Regions from separate parts of the Homo sapiens genome. Here region 2 is linked to region 1. Evidence: fine-mapped expression QTL. Tissue or cell type: cerebellum. Region 1 holds a variant in brackets; the other region holds the start of a gene. All regions are shown on one strand. Distances are between the middles of the regions.

The links. PIP is the estimated chance that this variant, and not a neighbour inherited with it, causes the effect.
Region 2: LINC00836 starts here. The variant in region 1 is fine-mapped to the expression of LINC00836 in cerebellum (GTEx, PIP 0.92).

The regions. Positions count from the first base shown.
Region 1 is chr10:25,685,181-25,695,600 of GRCh38, forward strand. All of the region lies in intron 1 of LINC00836 (long intergenic non-protein coding RNA 836), which reads left to right. It also overlaps the pseudogene HIRAP1. Among named protein-coding and RNA genes, the nearest start is that of LINC00836, 39 kb to the left of the region's middle. RefSeq lists an enhancer at 8,911-9,411. The variant T/C (reference allele first, on the strand shown) is at 6,011.
Region 2 is chr10:25,647,047-25,657,466 of GRCh38, forward strand. It overlaps LINC00836 (long intergenic non-protein coding RNA 836), which reads left to right and starts at 4,666. Exons shown (of 3, transcript NR_108068.1): 1 at 4,666-4,753. It also overlaps the pseudogene GPN3P1.

The sequences.
Region 1 (10,420 bases):
CTCTGGCAACCTTCACCCAAGTCGGCACTGGCCCAGGCACAGGACTCAAAGAGGTACAGGTGCTGGCTGTTGGAAGTGAAAGCATAGTGGAAAACCAAGTGCACACAATGGCATGAATCCGCGGGATGCGCACTGACCTGTGGGGATGCACCTTGATGTGGTTGGCTGCCTCCCTGCTGGAAGGCCCCTGCATCCTCCCCCAGACTGTTGTCGATGCCCTGTCACAAGCCTTGTCTCAACCAACCTCCCATCTTGAGCACCCGCTAAAGGCCATTCCCTTCCTTAGCTTTGTCCTGGTCTCTGAACTTTGGCATTCATAGTCTATATCCACCCTTTTATCAAATATAACTTAGGATGACTTTGTTTACATATGGTTGAGCTTGGCTTTTGCATGTCCACATACTCTTATTTTATACTCCCAGTAAAACCTTAATATTACCCCAGGTACTTATAGCTTACATTGCATAAAGAAAGAAGAAAGTAGGAAGAAAGGAAATCAGGAATTACATAGATAACAAGGCTGTGTAGTTAGCCACCCCCTCCCCATGTGGGGCCTGAATTACGTGATTGAGGGTGATCAGTCATTTAACTTAAGAAGCTACAATGTTTCATGTAGCTTTCTTGTAGAACAGCTACAGACTCTAAATATTTCATTTTTGACATTGATAGACTAGGAGAGGAAATTATCTCCAGGAAAAATGCCATGCATGACCAGGGTTAATGATATGGAACACACCCCACAAAGATGCTTTGCCTTTGGGTACCAGGACTTCAAATCCTACACAATGAAGGTAGGCAAATTTCTTCTTCCATCAGCCCCAGATGGAGAGCCCAACTTTATGGATAATATTTTATCCCCCTCCTTTCTCTCTCCTAACACACACATTTCCACCCTGTAGCCCACCCCACCCTACCCTGTCTCACTCTTTAATCCTATTTCTATGTAGGATTCTGTTATTTGCATTCCAGAGAAATTTTTTTCCTAACAAGTATAAAGTGAAGAAGCTATTCTTTATGATGAAAGGATACAAATCTTTCTCAACCTAGATGTTTCTAATACTCTTCAGTGAGGGTCTAAAGTGGGAAATGATTTAAATTAGTCTTCAGTGAATTTCTCCCCAGCTTTCTCAACCCAAAGGACAGAGCAGCAACTTAGCTGGTTCTCACAGGATCCAATGTTTGTTTGTTTCAGATCAAAAATGAAACCAAGAGAGAAAAGAAACAGTGCAGTTAGCAAAAAAAAAAAAAAAAAAAAAAAAAAAAAAAAAAAAAAAAAAAGCAGGGATTCTTAATCTTGAGGGTGCGTGAAAATACTGTCGGAAGAGGAGGCATTTCGATCTGCAGCCCTGCCGTGCTGGGTTTCTGAGCTCTGCTGCTCTCTTTCTCTGGGTAACAGGAGACTTGAAGACATCGCCCAGAAGGTAGAGCTTCAAATCCTGTTCTAGGGCCCAGAAGCAGAGGTATGGACCCCACTCCTGAGTTAATTTACTGTATAACATATGGTATTTAAAAACTTTTACTAAAATCTTGTTCCTATGCTTTGTGGTCAATGTCCAGGCTAATTTGGGAATCGGGACTAACCAACTGATCCCACTGGTGAACAGAGAAACTCAAGAGTTCAAGGCAAGGCCTCAAGTCCAGCAAAGTGTAATACCCTTGAAACCCCAAATCCTGGTGGGCACTGGTGCGTCCCACTCAAGGGTCCAGATGCTCATTTTTGCATGGATACACTGTTGAGGATTTTTCTGCCTGGGATGCCTTCCCCCTCCTCCTCACAGCCCATTTTTTTCTCCACACATCATTTCTGAGTCTATAATTCCTATAAAATTTTAATATCCAGCTTAAATGTTCATCTCTCCATAATTCCCCTGTCTGAACCCTTTTTGTCCTTGGTCCAAAATAACTTGAAATGATTTTCTTCTATGGAAATTGTGGGGTTTTTTCCCATTATGTAAGTGCCTTGACTCAATTTGATTTATTACTTCAGCATCTATGTAGTAGCTTTCTGTGCTGTGTGTTCTTCTTCTATAAATGGGGGATGATAACAACAGTACCTTCCTCAGTGAGTTGCAGTGATGTTTAAATGAGTTAACAACATAAATGGCAACAGAACCAGATACATAGTAAATGTCCAAAGAAGTTAGCAATGATGACGATAATGTATATCGTTATAATAACCCCATATACCATTGGTAAATATTTTGGAATGAAAGAATAGGTAAAAATAATTATCAATTACTTTGAAGCATGGGTGACTTGAACACCCAGGCCCAAGTTCCAGACTCCCCTGAGGATTGCTTCATCATCACTGGGCTCACCTAGAGTCTGGGAGTCTCTGTTGTTAGGTTCATGCAAGATCTCCAGGTCTTGCATGCTTGTTAGATAAAACCCCACATAGGGTTAAACAGAAGACCCAAAGACAGGGAACTCTTCTCAGAAGGAAAGAAAATTGCCATTAGTTTTATTGCTGTGGTTTCTGCTGCTGTGGATGTTTTTTAAATTATCTAATTTTGAGAGCCTGGGAAATGACAAAGAGCCCGGCTGTCCAATTATAACACTGGTTGTGTAAACCCAGGAGACTTGGAGTCTCTTAAAATTTGTGTAAAGAAGGGCTGATCATAATCACAATACATCACCACTGATGTGTTTTGTTTGCATGGTATCATTTGGTTCTAGTGATTTTTTCCTGCATTATTCTAGGTGACATGCTATCTCTCCATCAAAACAGGGAAGTGAAGCCTTGGAGGGAATATAGTAATCTGCATTTCTCTTGTATCCATTCTTTCATAGGACTTCACAGACCACTGGATCTCACGCTTTGGTGAGAGCATCTCATGAGGACTTTGCTATCAAAGCAGATTTTAGAACCCATCCGCAGGCGTTCAGACTCAGTGTCTCTGCCTCGAAATAGGCATTTTAAACAAGATCCTTAGGTTTTTCTAAGGCAGGCATCTTCTGGTCCTTGTATTTCAAAACATTGCTTTTTATGGACATATAGGAATACACAGAGGCATACATGCAGTTTAACTGGAAAAATATTAAGTTTAACTGTCATTTATACATTCATTACAACATATTTCATTCACCAAATATTACCAAAACTTAGGATGTGCAATAAAGATTCAGAGTAAAAAAAAGTCCCTCCCATCATGGAGCTTAAATTCTTACTGGTTAGAAACAATTCATCAACAAATAAATGCACATCCACTTATACATGTGCATGTATGTTTGTTTATTATATATGTAATATGACATCATATACACTAAAGGTTATATATGTGTAGTATGGCATTCTATATAGTATATACTATATAGACAATATATACATATACTATATACTATATTTACTATATATATTATATATAGGCTATATAATATATACTATATAGTATATGCTATATATACTCTATATTACATGTAGTGTAGATACTATATTAATACTATAACATAACAAATATAATACTGTTTTATAGTATATTTATATATTATATATAGTATATTATAGGTACTAGTATAGTACATTATATTAGTATGATATATAGTATGTTAATACAGTAAATTATATATAATATAGTATAGAATACTATAATACTATATATAGAATACTATATATACTACATAGAATACTATAAGATTAAATACTATATATTATAATGTAGTATGCTATATATCCTATACTATATATAATATTATATACTACTATATATAGTTTATACAGTATATATGTTGTATGCATACTATATATACAGCATATATAACATAGTATATATTATAGAGTGTATATATACAGCATATACAATATGTATATATGTATAGTATATATGTTGTTTATACTATATATAGTTATTATTCTTGTATTAATACATTATATTAGACTTTACATAATGTCTATATTTGTGTCTATATACATGTATAAGTCCATATATAGGCATTATATAAATATAGCATGACATTATATATTCCATATATGAAGTATGACAGTTGATGATAATTTCTTTAAAGGAAAAAAAGCAAGTCATAGGAGATAGAGGGATCATTTAGGTAGAGTGACAAGGAGACCTTTCTGAAAAGAGGCGTTTGAGCAGATTTCTAAAAGAATGAGTGAACAGACCCCAGAGCTGATGAGAACAGAGCCCTGCAGGCAGTGGTAAAGCAGGTGTCATGCCCTGAGGGGGCACTTTCTTCAAGTGATGATGGAAATCAAGGAGGCCAGCCTGGTTGTGGTGGCAGAAACAGGTGGGAAAGGAATGGAGGTGAGTCAGAGAGGGGACAGGGACCAGCTCATGATGGGCCTTGCAGATGACAGAAAGGACTTTGGCATTACTCAGAGCAAGGCGGGAAGCCACAGATTGCCCTGAGCAAGGAAAACTGTGACAAGACGTGTTGGAAAGGATCACTCAGGCTGCTGTGAGGACAACACAGATGAATGCCAAGAAGCTGATGGCAAGGCCCCAGTGCTCAGGAAAAGCCAGGCAAAAGCTGCAAGGCATCCTGGTCTCATCAGAAATAAGTCAAGGAGAGAAAATGCAATCCCCGTGAAATGAGCTTCAGAAACACACATCAGAGGCTATTGAGAATTCATGACATCAAAAGCAATTTTTAAAATTCAGCATAGTTTTTTTAATCCAAAAAATATATATCAACACTCCCCCATGCCAACACTCCCTTTGAGTGAGGCAGATTCCTCAGGATTCATGTGGCAGCCACACATGAGCATATGAAGGGACAGAGAAGCCACCAGCTGGTTCTGCCTGACATTCAGCTTCTCCTGCATGAGGCTAGCTTTGTTTTGGCCAAGAAGTGTCCAATGGGACATAAAATCTGAGCAGAAATGTGTCCCAGAATCTTCTGTATTTCCTTCTCCTCTGCCTTTGCCTTGCTTTCTTCTTTTCCTCTCCTTATGCCTCTCTTTCTCCTCCTTCTCCTCAGAAAATCATTGTTTTGAAAAAAAAAGTGCACACTTTTTTGAGGAATCTAAGCAATGCAAAAGTACAAAAAAAGAAAGTTTTTTTGTTTGTTTGTTTTTTTAGAAAGCTTCCTCATAGAAACAATCATCAGTAGCATTGAGCAAACTGATAGGAGATTGTAAAAAGTTTGTGGCTAGAAACAAAACAAATGCATTACCTTGTGGTTCTGTAGGCCACAAGTCTGTTGTGGGTCTCACTGGATTAAAATCTAGGTGTCTGCAGGGCTATCTTCCTTTCTGGAGACTCTAGGGGTAAATAGGTTTCCTTGCATTTTCTAGCTTCTAGAAGCCTCCTTTATTCCTTGGCTTGTAGCCTCTTCTCAATGCCAGGAACGGAGCATCTCCCTGACCTACTTCCATGGATCTATCTGTTTCTCTGAGCATACCCAAGGAAAGGTTCCCCACTTAAGAGAACACCTTTGATTACATTGGGCACACACAGGTAATCCAGGATCATCTTCCCATCCCAAGGTCCTTAACTTTAATCACCTCCACAAAGTCCCATTTGCCAAGTAAAATAACATATGCACAGGTTCTGGGGATTAGCATATGGACATCTTGGGGGAGGTCATTATTCTGCCTACCAGATTGATAGACCAAATGCTTTCATAAAAATGCAATATACTATTCCTGTTATTTTAAAAAAGTGCTCAGTTTTACCTAAATCAACAGATTTCAGAATTAATTATTGCAGAGACATCCTTCAGTCCTGCTGCGTGTGTTAAATGGCAGATGTAATTACAGAAAGCTAAGAGTCTTAGACCAAGGGTGAAAAATCTGCATAGCAATGAAACAAGATATTATGCAAAACTTATGTAGTGTTAAAATAAGCATAATGGGATGTCCTTTCGTGAAATGTCAGCTAATTTCTTTAAACAGATACTTCCTTTTTCTCTGGGCCTCATCATCTCCCCAACCACCACCACCAAAAAAAAAAAAAAAAAAAAAAAGTGTAAGCTAATCTAGTTTTAGCTTTTAGCTTTTGAGTTTCCAAAGTTTAGCCCAATGGGAATGGAAAGAAGTCAAAACATATACAACATTGAG[T/C]AACAGCCAACTCCTCCTGCCCTTTAAGCTTCTCACTCATTGCTGCCATGATGAGAGGAAGTCCTATCAGCCACATGCCAAGATCCACTAGAAGAGAATCAAAGGCCTTATCAGCCAAGCCCCAGTTGAGCTCCCAACCAGCATTTAGCCAGGCTAGTGAGGACACTTGGAAACTTCCAGACATCCCAATGCTCCAGCCAACATCACATGAAACAGAAGAGCTATGCGGTGGACCTACAAAATCGTAAGAAGAGATATATCACTAATGATTCATGCCATTGGGTTTGAGTGTAGTTTTTTAATGCAGCAAATAAATAAATAAAACTGTGTAAAGATGCTGGTGAAAACCAAGACTTTGATGAACGCAGAGGAACAATCTAGGAGCTCAGGTCCAGCTTGATAGATGATGGAGACCACCTCACATCTGCTCACACCATAATAACTGTGCAGGTCATCCAGGGGGGTTACTAGAAAACCAACATGGATTTTGTGGGGACACAAAAGACAGTAACTGTGAAATTCAGCCTGCAGACGTCTCTTCAAAAGGAAGCAGTAGATTGGGGGCACCATTGCCTCCAAGGCTGTGTGCATTGACACCAAAGACAGTTCCCTCTCTGACTGGCTGGCCTTTTAAAACGACCTCTGATTGTTATGCATAAGCTTTTGGGTAATGCTATCATGGATAGTACCCGGAACCTGATGGACGTGACATTTTGGCCTTCTCTCCTGATGGTTCTGTAGCCTTTCTTAGACTTCTCCAGGGATGAGCTTGAAGATCCCCCAGAGTGATAAGAAAGTCACATTTTTAAGTTCACTTATATTAACAGTTCAGCCACAGTTAGCTACTGAAGTTCAAATTTCTGTGACCACTTTGGAAAAAAACAAGATCCTAAGAGGATGGCAGAGAGAAGATCCAATGCCTCTATCAAAGTAGCAAGGATGGCCAACCGGGCAAGTACAGAGGACATCACAAAGAATCTTGGAACAACAGGTTGGCTCACAAATGGCAGAAGATCAAGGAAGAATTAAACCCATCTGCACTGCCCAGATGGTCTCTGAGTTCTCCACACATCTGTACCAGCCCCTCCTGCCACATGGAGTCCTGGCAGGCTGTGAGCTCTCCTCTCACACAACTGGCTCTAACATCCTGCAGTGAAGTGGCACCAACTCCCTCAGGCCCCCAGACTCTCGCAGGGCCTCCAGCACTGCCTGTCCCTGTGAGTCCCTTAATCTCTTGTTGCAGAATGTGGCCTTTCAGCCCACAATACCAATTCTTGACAAGAGCAATGCTTGAGGGGGCTTTGAATTTTCCTCACTCAGGAATTTAACTCTTTTTTGAATGTAATCTTAGACAAAGTCATTTACTGCTGAGAGCCACAGGACACAATGGGACCAGGTGTAGGAATGGTGACTTTCCACAGGGCTCCTTGAGGAAGCACCTGCCAGCTCAGATGATCAGAGGCAGCTTCTGCTTTGTCTCTGAAGGACGATGGGGTTAAGGCTCTCAGCATTAACCTTCAACAGAGCCACATTGTGCCTGATAGGTGTGGATCTATCTTCAAAGGAGAGAACCCAAAGGGCCACTGTGGTTTTCAGGGGAGAAAGCTGCAAGATTTGTGGCTTCCGTGCTAACATGCAGAATCTGGCTTCCCAGAGCATCCTTGTCTGATCTCAGCCTTAACATCCTTGGACGCTTTCCACTACAACCCTAGACTAGATCCTGGGAATATTCCCAGGATGATGTGGCTCTGTATTGGATCACAGCCTACTTCCACAGAGTTCTGGGGGCTGAGGGGGTTGTGGAGTGAGTAAGGCCAGATCCCCTCAGCACTTTGCTCACCAGCACAGCTCAGCTTTCAGGAAGAGACATGGTCCTGTCCCTGAACAAGGCAAAGCTGTAACCATTAGGTGAATGACCACATGTAGATGAAAACTATTAAGGTTTTATGCAGCTAAAAATCTGACCCAGGACCTGTGTGAAAAGGAAAAACTGTTTCAACGCTGGCTTTTTTTCTGTCTGCTAGAGTTTACTGCCTCATAAAATGGCATTTTCCCTGGGTAACAGCTGAATTGGAGTCACTTGTAGGAAATTTAAATTCTAATTGTGATAATTAGGTTGTAAAATAAGCATAGCAACATTAACTTATCCATTATATTTTGTTTTCAATTTTTAAATGGTTACAAAATTAGCCTTAAAAAACTGTTATTTTCAATTCTGGGGGTACATGTGCCGGTTTGTTATCTGGGTATATTGCATGTTGCTGAGGTTTGGGGTGTGTGTGATCCTGTCACCTAGGAAGTGAGCATAATACTCAATAGTTTTTTTTCTTTGTTTTTTGTTTTTGTTTTGTTTTGTTTTCTGATGGAGTCTTGCTCTAGTCGCCCAGGCTGAAGTGCAGTGGCATGATCTCAGCTCACTGCAACCTCTGCCTCCTGGGTTGAAGCTATTCTCCTGCGTCAGCCTCCCGAGTAGCTTGGATTACAGGAGCCTGCCACCATGCCCAGCTAATTTTTAATTTTTTTAGTAGAGACAGGTTTTCATCATGTTGGCCAGGCTGGTCTCGAAGTCCTAACTTCAGGTGATCCACTCTCCTTGGCCTCCCAAAGTTCTGGGATTACAGGCATGAGACACCACACCTGGCCAATAGTTTTTCAATGCTTGCCGCCGTCCTTCCTTCCCCCATTTTGGAGTCTCCAGTGTCTATTGTTGCCATCTTTATGTTCATGTGTATCCAATGGTTAGCTCCCACTTAAAAATGAGAACATTTGGGTTTCTGTTCCTGCATTAATTCACTTAGGATAATGGCCACCACTGCATCCACATTGTGGCAAAGGACATGATTTTGTTCTTTTTTATGGCTGTGCAGTATTCCATGGTGTATTTGAACCACACTTTCTTCATCCAGTCCACTGCTGATGGGCACCTGGGTTGATTCCATGTCTTTGTAAAAATAGACTTTTTTTTTCTAAAAAGAGGCAAAATTGGTGTGCAATTCTCAGTGAAATTGTGAAATAAATGGACACTGTATTGACACTGACCAAAAGTAAAATCTAGTGATGGGATGTGCTAGATGAGGGAGTCCTGGGGGAAGGCACAAGGGCCCGAGGACATGAGGAGAGTGGAGTGGTATGCAGCGAATTCTCTTGTGCTGGAGGACAGGGAGCAGCCCTCTTGCCGACCTCACCTGGAAGTCTCAGGAATTTTCCATCCCCAGGTCCCCAGGCAATGCTGGGAGGCCTGTGAAAACTTCCAGGTTGGAGCAGAGGGCAGGGCCAGCCACACCTGGGGTGGGTTATGAGAGGAGAGAGAAGGGGGGAAAGGTGAGTACAGCCATCGTAATGATGCAGGTGCCTCCAGCCAGATCCCGGTTCTCACGGGCAGCCGGTCTCAGCCTAGCTGACGTCGACCCAGAATCCCACGCTCTCGGCTTCCACCCAGCCACTGTTAGGCACGAACAGGGCACCCCAAAGCTCTGCATGTCTCTGAAAAGAACCCCATTCCCTGCCCCCAGCCCTGAAGCTTCGCAAGCACTGACCTTGTTGAGGCCACGGAGGCATCTCCTTGTGCCCTCTCTCCCATGTGACTCCTATCCACAGGAAGGCCTAGACTCCATGTCACCCCAACATGTGAAGCCCCTCTGCTACCCTGACCCCACCTCCCATCACCCTCGACTTTTGAAACACTGCCACCACACCCTTTGGGATCACAGTCAGTTTTAGGTAAAATCCTTGTATCCTCAGCCACCTCTCTGATGGGTCCCTTTACTGTTTTGCTGCTCTGAGGCCTCTGCCTCTTATGGCCCCTCGAAGGGGCAGCTGTTTCCTCTCCACATCCCACATTGGTTTTGGGTGTGCCCCTCACAGTGACTAAAGACCGTGTTTCCTCTTCCCTCTACAGTCCTCACATTCTCAGACTACCACCCACCACCCCTCCTTGCTACGTCCCTTTATGCATCACTGAGTTGAGCTCCTCTCATCTCTCAATAAGGTTAGCACCTCTTCCTTGACACAGTCTGTTCAGTGCCATCCTCATGAGGCTCCTTGGTGAGTCAGTGACCACAAATGCCCCCTCCAATCCCCTGGCCTCCCTTCCCTACCTTCCTCTCCTCCAGTAACCAGTTCTTCACCTCCTGCAGCCTCTCCTTCCACCATGCTCTGCCCTGTGTCCAGGGCCACCACCCCTCCACGATCCCAATTGCAAACTCTCTACCCTCTCACCATCTCTTCCTTTGTTCCAACACTCTTAGTTGACTATCCCAGATTCAAGACTTCTTTGATGCTCTTTTGACTTTTTGTTTTCCACTTGGCTTCAAGGGCCCTGCACTCTTGGGTAGAATTTGGACAGATCTAGATACCTGGGGAAAGTTTTAAAGTTGTGTATGTGGAAAGATCGGTGGGGAAGTGGGGGTG
Region 2 (10,420 bases), 38 kb before region 1:
AATCAGGAAAGACCTTAAAATTATATTCCCTTTTAAATTTTTTAATTATATAAATAATACATTTTCAATGTAGGGAAATGGTAAGATATAGATGGGCAGTGGTCTTACCTATATCCTTCCAGATATTTCCCTCTGGATAGACATGTATATTTTGTTACAATAATTCCTGCACCTCAAAAACAATACAAACAGTAAAAATGAGATTGTATTAGCCTTATTAACTGTTGCAGAGGTGCTAATTTATATACAATTCTATGTGCATTCATTTCAATTTTGACTTTTAAATTTAAATTGATACGATCAAAATAATACTACAAGTTTCCACGTGAAGCAGCAGCAGTTTCAGAATAATTCAAAACTTGATTCAGGCATGCTGCTGATAAAAAAAAAAAAAAAACATGTACCTTTTTTTTCATTAGAATATGCAGCTTTCTACTACTGCATTCTTCGAAGAGAAGAATATTCTGCCGGTTTGGCCACAAGCTCTTCACGTATAGACAGTTACTCCTTAGTAAACTCTTCATTCATCCTGGTGTTCTTGAAAATATTCCTCAAACATAGAAGAAGATTCATTTTCATATTCCTTTGGTTATTTAAATGTTGAATCTTCTCCACATTGAATGGCTAAATCAATATGCTATAATACAATGTTCATACTTTCTTCATCTGACTGATCATAAGGTAAGAAGAGAACTATGCTGCAGTCATCAGCCCACATACAACTTTAGTTACTTTTTTGAATTCTTTGCTTCTTAAGCCACTTGTAGAATCATCAAATAAGGAATCCATGTCTAGATCTAGAAACTTACAGTTTCCTTTTTAGCTTTTTTACTCTGCAGCTACATTTTGATCACGATGTTAACTTGCGGAATTTATAGAGAGAGCATGGCACTCAGGACTGCCAAGATGCCAGAAATACACTTGAATGACTCCACCATGAACTGAGGATCAACAAGAAAAACTCCATAGACTCGGAAACTCCACTGCTCGAGCTGCAGGACCAGCTGCTTCATCACAGTCAGGTGAATGTACAACTCAGTCCAAGCTGGACAATCAAAGCTGGCAAGGGTATTACCAATTACTAATGGGATTGTAATTGTCCTAGTCCTTTTGAAAGCAATTAAACAATATGAATCAAAAGCAATACAAAGGTTCATACCTTTTACACACCTTTATGCTCTATTTATGAAATTATAGACTAACCAAATGTTCCAAAAATATGGAAAAATTATATGCATGAAGCAGCACCTCGGATCATTATTCATAACCGTAAAGTATTGGAAAAAACCTACAGCGCCAACAATAGAAAAGTGAAAAATGAAATTACAGAGCATCCACTCAAATATTGTCAAGCCTTTTTAAAATTATGGTTATAAAGACTGTGCAAAGGCATGAATAATGCTCATGACATATTAAATAGTGACTCAAGCTTTATAATTATTTGTCTAATGATTTCAATAAAATATAAAAAGAGAATACTCACTATTACTAAGACCGACTGTCTAAACTAGGTTGCAATTTTTAATCAAGAGAGTGGCAGACAGAGTATATGTGTGATATGGTTTGTATCTGTGTCCCCACCAAATCTTGTGTCCCTATAATCCCCAGTGTTGGAGGTGGGGCCTGGTGGAAGGTGACTGGATCATGGGGGTGGATCCTTCATATATGGTTTGGCACCATCCCTTGGGTGCTGTTCTCATGACAGAGTTCTCACAAGATCTGGTTGTTTAAAATTCTGTGTCACCTGCCTAGCCTGCCACTCCACCTCTTCTTGCTCCTGCTCTGGCCATGTAAGATGTGCCTGCTTCCCCTTCACCTTCTGCCATAATCGTAAGTTTCCTAAGGCCTCCCAAGAAGCAGATGCTGCCATACTTCCTGTATAACCTACAGAACTGTGAGTCAATTAAACATCTTTTCTTTATAAATTACTCAGTCTCAGGTATTTCTTTATGGCAGTGCAAGAACAGACGAATGCAATGTGCATAGACTTTTCCAAGACCTTGGAATGTATTATGTGAAGGCATATTATTAGTCAGCGAAGTAGAACCACTAGAAGTAATATAGATTAAAGGATTTGTTATAGGGGTTAGATTTTTACAAAACTATGTTGCTGGTGGAGAAGTCTGTGCAAGGCTGTTGTCTCTGTGTCTGATGTTGAACCTGAAGTCACTATAGAATAGCCAGCCAGCAATTGGTAGGAAAGCCTGAGTAGATGAGGGCAAGGACATACTAGAAGCTGAAAGGACAAGCGAGTGCTTGAGGACAAACTTGACCCAAGTCCCTTGGCTTGGGCTTTCTGTCACTTGCAATCTAAGGAGTTCTAACTGATAAAAGTAGATCAGTCTTGGCCTTGGAATAATAAGTCTGATTATGTTATAGAAACTTCACTATGACTCCACCTAGCATTAAAACCCATGGAGCTGAGTGACTGACAACCCCTTCCAGAGACCAAATGGGCAGAATCTGGGAAAAACTGGGAAGACCAAAGGAATTAAAGACTGCAGCATGGAGGAGAAAGCAAGAATAGGAACCTTGAAAAGTGGCAATTTAGTAACCTTGAGGCTCTAGATCGAAGACTCTTCATGGCCATCGAGAAACCTGGAATCTGCTGAATGGAGTGTAGAAGTCACTCTCTAATCTCCACCTTCTATGCGTTCTCTGTGGGTTAGCAAGTAGAATGGAAACTTAACCCTTGGTGAAAAGCTGCTTTGTGCATTCTTCTAGACTCTATCTGTGTTTTTGGCCCACGAGGATAGGCATGGTACTGGGGTAAAACATTGTGGTGACAACTAAGGCTAAGTGTTGACTGATACAGCCATTACCTACTGCAGTGTACATGCCTCCAATTTACATTTGTTTGAAAATTCCTATATAAAGAAACTAAGTAAACAAAGCACAGGTCTTGATAAATTCACAGTTGTGTGTCTATACTGCCTTCATATCCAGTTGAAAAATGGTCAACACATCATAAATGATTTCATGCTGGACACAGTAGCTCATGTCCATAATCCCAGCACTTAGGGAGGCTGAGGTGGGACGATTACTTGAAGCCAGGTGTTTAAGATCATCCTGGGCAATAGAGGCTGATCTCTGTCTGTACAAAAAATAAAAAATTAGCTGAGCATGGTGGTGCACACCTACAGTCCCAGCTCTTGGGAGGGTGAAGCAGGAGGATCTCTAGAACCCAGGAGTCGAAGGCTGCAGTGAGCTATGATTGTGCTACTACACTGCAGCCTGGGCAACAGAGCTAGGCTCTGTCTCTAAAAATAAAAAAATAAAATAAATTTAAAAAGAAAGGAAGAAGAAGAAAAAGAAAAAATGATGTAGCAGAATTTTCCCTGCCAAATCCACCAGTTAATAACCTATTGTTATATCTTGAAAGTTATGTTGGGATTATTTCCTTCTGAAATGGACTTCCTTCCATTCCACCTTCTATCCCTGTGTATTTTTGTTCACCAAGACTCTTATGAGAAAATTCTACTACAAATATGCCATTGTTGGGGAGAGAAAAGCTTTCACCTCAGACTCTCTAAAACACCGGCTTATGTCTGCCCACCCCTCTGAGAAGTAAACATGATTTGTAAATAAAAGCCACCCTGGGGCTCACATGAGATCAAAATTTATCTCCACAGTTTTCATGTTATGTTATTATCCTAATGTTGCCTTAAGACTCTCAAAAATAACACTTTAAAAGATCCACATTTCTCATATCTAAAGGAAGTTTGTTATTCCTTTGTTTGCACCCTACCTTGTTAGAAAAAGGATTGGAGGAAGCTTTCTGTGATACAAAAGATAGAAAGAAAGAAGGGAAGAAAGAAAGAAAGAAAGAAAGAAAGAAAGAAAGAAAGAAAGAAAGAAAGAAAGAAAGAAAGAAAGAGAAGGAAGGAAGGAAAGAAAGAGAAAGGGAAAGAGAGAGAGGGAGAGAGAGAGAAAGAAAAAGGAAGGAAGGGAGAGAGAGAAAGAAAGAAAAAAGGAAGGAGGGAAGGAAAGAAAGAAAGAAAGAAAGAAAGAAAGAAAGAAAGAAAGAAAGAAAGAAAGAGAGAGAGAAAGAAAGAAAGAAAAAGAAAGAAAGAAAGAAAAGAAAAGAAAGAAAAAGAAAGAAAGAAAGAGAAAAAGGATCAGATCAGGTCAGAGAAAAAACAATGGTTAAAAAAATAACTTGTCACTAGGGTAAGAATAACATGCATAATGCATTTTTTAATGTCCTGATAAACTGAGCTGTATATTTGTTTCATAACTCCCCAGCTTCCACAGCAAAAATAGAGAACTGATAATTATCACTATTTTTATTCTTTATGGTTGCTCAGGGGGAAAATTTTTAAAGGGGACATTACTGGAATAAGGTTACCCTTCTGTCACTCACATTTGATTACTCATAGACTTTTCTATTTGAAGACGCATTAAGGAAAATTTTCCTTGCAAACAAATGTTGTCAAATGAATTGACCAACATGCATACCTGCCAAGTGCCCAGCATCCTCAAGTACCTATAGGACATTAACTCCAGTAGCCTGTGTAGCAAAGTAGAATAAAAATAAAGTTACTGGGAATTCAGGATTGATAATATCTCTGATTTGTATATTTCTGCAGCAGTCAGTCTCTTTCAAAATATGGGAACAGCAAGTTAAAATAAACTGTCTTATTGGCAGAACAGAGTGTGATCATGAGATACTATTCAGCTTTTATGCTGATTCATCAGCTCACAGTGAAACGAGCTTGCATGAGAGCATCCCAGGACCACTGAACATTCAGAGGTATGTCCTCGCATCTTAATTTTTTTAAGGTAAAATGAGATTTTCATAGAATAAGGATACAGCTGATAAATAGCAAGTCTAAAATTACATATACACTAGCCTACATTTAAGAATATCTTGGCTAATTATTCCTAAGTCATTGATGTTTTTGTTTGTCTTTGTTTTTTACTATTTATTTCCTTTGCTTTACAGCTTTATTGAGTCATAATTGATGTAAATAAACCATCCATATTTAAAGTGTATTATTGATGAGTTTTTACATAATATACTTCCATGAAACCATCTTCAGTCAATGTAATGAAACTTTATATCACTCTCAGAACTTTCTCTTACCTCTTTCACACTCTAATTATTGTTTTTAACCTGCCTGTTCCTATTATATAGCAAATAATTTGCTTTTTAGAATCAAGATCATTATGATGCAATGAATATTTATCATTTGCTCTTTTGAACTGTGTTTGATGATTCTGTGACTTTTGTAGGTATCACAAAAGGGATTTACTTTCATGCAGAAAACTTAGGCTCAGCAAATGAATCCATATTTACGAATTTATGATGGGCTGAAATGGTAGGAAGAACTGGCCAGTCAATCTTGGACAAGAGTAGAACATTTAAAATGAAGTGGAGGTGATGGTAATGGGGGTGGGGTTGTACCACTTCAGTATAAGGAAACTGCAAAGAAAAAAAAACCCACCTGATTACTATGGCGGGGGTCGGTTCATCATTACATCATGAAAGGGGCAAATAGTTTAGAATATGCTAGGGGCTGGTGAAGAATTAAAGAAAAAAAGAGGGAAGAATGAAAGGGGGTAAGGGAAGAAGGGGAAAAGGGAAGGAACAAATAAGATATTAAGAGTAAAGGGAAAAAGACAAACAGAGAATACTGCAGTAGGGCTTTGAGCTAAAAGACATACAGTGACTTTTGTGATAAAGAAACCAAAGAAGGTCGTGAAATGGGTATCCAAAAAAAAAAAAAAAACGGGCAGCCTGTGGCGCTGCGGCTGGATAAAGAACATCAGGGACAGGAAGGCTGTAATAAGATTCCACCACCATCTCTGCCCATCACTAGGGCTGGAGGCAGAGAAAAACTTCCCCTACTCAAGAAAAAGAAGCTATTTTTGTCAAGTTAAATGAGCCTGAACCTGCAGAGCTGAATTGGCAGATGAATATTGCTAATTGGTGCAGTTTCTTCGGTGCAGGAAAGAGTTTCCAATCAGACCGGCAATTCATTGGCCACATGAAGGTAATTTATTAATAAAAATGAACTGAAGTTTCAGAATCCTTGATAATGATGAGCTCATGGTCCTTCACCTCCCTTCCCTTCCCTAGAAAGAACACCCTACAACAATGATGCCTCAGTGATATCTTCTCCAGCCCATTCCATATGTGGCAACATTTCAAGTGGTTTTTTTTTTTATTAGGAATTTCTACATTTAGTTGTCAAATCAAGCTGCTCTAAATGCCTAATTCTGATTCTCCCTTCATCAACAGACTTTTTGAGGAGTTCCTGATTCAAAGTAACCAGGAAAGTCTGCTAACTGCAGCTTAATTCTGAAAAGTGAAGGGGAAAACAAAACAGGAGAAACAGTCTCCCTTTAAAAAAAAATTAACTTTATTTTTCAGTTTAATAAATTTGACAAATGTATCCTCCTATGTAACCATAACCACATTAAGACATGGAGAATTGACCTCACCCCAAAGAATTCTGGTTTCCTTTGCAGTAACCACTCTCCCCAGCCCTGGTCATAGACAGCCATTGGTCTCCTTTCTGTCATTGTAGATTAGTATTGCCTTTTCTAGAATTCCATATAAATGAAGTTATCTGATGGCTTTTTAAAAAGTCAGTTGAACGTTTTTTGAGATTCAATCTGTGTTGCTGTACATCATTAGTCCATGCTTTTCATGGCTGAGTAGTATTCTATTATATAAACGTACTCCAATATGTGTATCCATGGGCATTTGGGTTGTTTCTGTTTTAGCCCATTAAAAATCAGATGGCTATGGGTATTAGTGTCCACGTATTTGTGTGGACATATGTTCTCATTTCTCTTGGGTAAATGCCTGGGGGTGGGATTGCTGTGTCATATAGTAAGTGTATTTTTAACTTTATAAGAAACCATCAGCTGTTTTCCAAACTGACTGTACCACTTTACATTTCCATCAGTAATGCCTGAGATTTCTAGTTGCTCCAAACCAGAGCCACTGAAATGGGTATAAAGTGGTATCTCATTGTTTTAATCACATTTTCCTAATGACTAGTAATGTTAAGTGTTTTTTCATGTGTTTATTGGCCATTCGTGAATTTCTTTTTGTGAAATGTTTGCAAAATCTTATGCCCATTTTTAAAAATAGGGCCATTTTGTAACTGTCCAATGGGTTCTCCTTGCCTGCTGCCCAAGTAAAGGTGATTTATCAAGGAGTTTATCCTTTGCATGCCCAGGTAAAGGAATTGCAGTAGAGAGGGCTTAATTCACTCAGAGCCACCTGAATGGGAGACTGGAGTTTTACTACTCAAATCAGTCTCCCTGAAAATTTTGAGACCGGGGTTTTTAAAGGATAATTTGGCAGACAGGAGGCCAGGGACTGGAGAGTGCTGATTGGTTAGGTCAGAGATGAAATCACAGGGGATCGAAGTGGGTTTTTCTTGTTGTCTTCTGTTCCTGGGTGGGATTGCAGAACTGGTAGAGCCAGATTACTGGTCTGGGTGCTAGCTGGTGGATCAGAATGCAGGGTCTGGAAAATATCTCGAGCACCAGTCTTAGGTTTTACAATAGTGATCTTATCCCTAGGAGCAATTGGGGAGGTTCAGCATCTTGTGGCCTCTGGCTGTATGACTCCAGAACATAATTTCTAATCTTGTGGCTAATATATTACTCCTATAAAGGCAGTCTGGTCCCCAGGCAAGATGGGAGTTGATTTTGGGAAAGGGCTGTTATCTTTGTTTCAAAGTTAAACTATAAACTAAGTTCCTTCCAAAGTTAGTTCAGCCTATGACCAGGAATGAACAAGGGCAGCTTGGAGTTTAGAAGCTAGATGGAATCAGGTTAGATTTCTCTCAGCGTCATAATTTTCTCACTGTTATAATTTTTACAAAGGTAGTTTCAATTGGTCTTATTATTGAGTTGTGAGAGTTCTTTATATATTATATATTATATATTATTTCTTTTTTTTTTTTTTTTGAGTCAGGGTCTTGCTCTCTCACCCAGGCTAGAGTACAGTGGTGCAATCATGGCTCACTGCAGCCTCAAACTCCGGAGCTCAAGGGTTCCTCCCACCTCAGCCTCCTGAAGTGTTAGAGTTACAGGCATGAACCATGGTGCTTGGACAATATATTCTTTGGTCTCTTTCATGTAACTGAATTTAAAATTTTGATGAAGTTCAGTTTCTCCATTTTTTGTAGTTTGTCCTTTGTGTGGCCTGAAAAGCTTTGCCTACCCCATAATTGTGAAGATCATTGTCTATAATTTCTTTTAGAAGTTTTATGGTTTCAGCTTTTAAACTTAGACCTATACTCCATTCTGAGTAAATTTTTGCATGTGACATGAGGAACTCATTGAGGTTCTTTTTATTTAATCAATGTCTATTCAATTATTTGGGCACTGTTTATTGGAAAGACCATCCTAACTGAATTACCTTGCTGCCTTTATAAACAATGAGTTGACCTGTGGTCTACAGGTCTATCTGTATGCAAATACTGCATTATCTTGATTACTGTTTGCATTAGTCAGTTCTAATTAGTCAGTTGGCTGCCAAAAGAAATACTTGAGACTGGCTATTTATAAAGAAAAGAGCTTTAATTGGCTCATGACTCTTCAGGCTGTACAGGAAGCATAGCGGCTTCTGCTACTGGAGAGGCCTCAAGAAACTGAAAATCATCATGGAAGGCCAAGGGGAAGCAGGCTCATCTTACACGGCCAGAGCAGGAGCAAGAAGGGAGGAGGGGAGGTGCCACACACTTTTAAACAATCAGATCTTGTGAGAACTCACTCACTATACAGTACCAAGTGGGGATGGTGCTAAACCATTCATGAGACCTTCTCCCCAAGATCCAGTCATCTCCCACTAGGCCCCATCTCCAACACTGGGGATTACAATTCAACATGAGATTTGGTGGGGACACATGTCCAAACCGTATCACTGTTACCATACAGGACATCTTGAAATCAGATGGTTATATCTTGAATTTTTATTCTTTTTTTAACTCAAAATTATTTTGACTATTCTATGTTCTATGTTCTTAGCATTTCTGTATAAATTTTAGGGTCAATTTGCCAATTTCTACATCAGAAGACCGTTGGGATTTTGATTAGCATATCGTTCAACCTATAGACCAATTTGAGTAGAATTGACATCTTAACATATTGAGTTTCTTGTTCCATGAACATAGTATATATCTACACTTGTTTATGTTATCTTTAATTTCTTTCAACATGTTTTGAAGTTTTTAAAGCACAGATCTTGCAAATATTTTATTCTTAAATAGCTCATATTTTTAGATAATATGCTAAATAGTGTAGTTGATCACATTTTATTTTCCAATTATTATTACCAGTATATAGAAGCACAACATAGTTCTTATATTAAATTGAACCCTATGACTTTGCCAAGGTCATTCGTTCTAGTAGATTTTTGAAGTTTTCTTATGATTTTCTATATAAATGATCATGATGTATACAAAGATATACATTTTTATTTCTTTCTACAACTGTATGCATTTTATTAATTTTTAAATTTTAAACATTTAATTTTTGTGGATACATAGTAGGTGTACATATTTCTGGACTATATGGGATATGTTGATACAGGCAAACAGTGTGTAATAATCACATCAAGGCAAATGGGGTAACCATCACCTCAAGCATTTATCCTTTGTGTTACAAACAATCCAATTATACTCTTTTAGATATTTAAAATGTACAATTAAACTATTTTGACTATAGTCACTCTTTTGTGCTGCAAATACAAGATCTTATTCATTGTTTCTCACTATTTCTTTGTATCCATTATTCATTCCCACGTCCCCCTCCCAATCCCCCAACTACTCTTCCCAGCCTCAGGCAACCATCCTTTTACTCTATCTCCATGAGTTTGATTGTTTTAATTTTTAACACCGACAAAGAAGTGAGAACATGCAAAGTTTGTCTTTCTGTGCCTGGCTTATTTTACTTAACATAATGACCTCCAGTTTTATCTACGTTGTTGCAAATGACTGGCTCTCATTCTTTTCTATGGCTGAATAGTACTATATTGTATGTGTGTACCACATTTTCTTTATCCATCCTTCTGTTGATGAACATTTAGGTTGCTTCCAAATCTTGGCTATTGTGGATAGTGCTGCAATAACCATGGGAGTGCAGATATCTCTTGTATATACTGATTTTCTTTCTTTTGGATATATATCTAGCAGTGAGATTGCTGGATCATATGCTGGTAGCTCTATTTATAGTTTTGTGAGGAACCACCAAACAGTTCTCCAGAGTGGTTGTTCTAATTTACATTACCGCAAACACTGTACTGGGGTTTCCGTTTCTCCACAATTTTGTCAGCATTTGTTATTGTCCATCATTTGGATAAAAGTCATTTTAACTGGAGTGAGATAATATCTTATTGTAGTTTTGATTTGCATTTCTCTGATTCTTAATGATATTGAGCACCTAGTCATATACT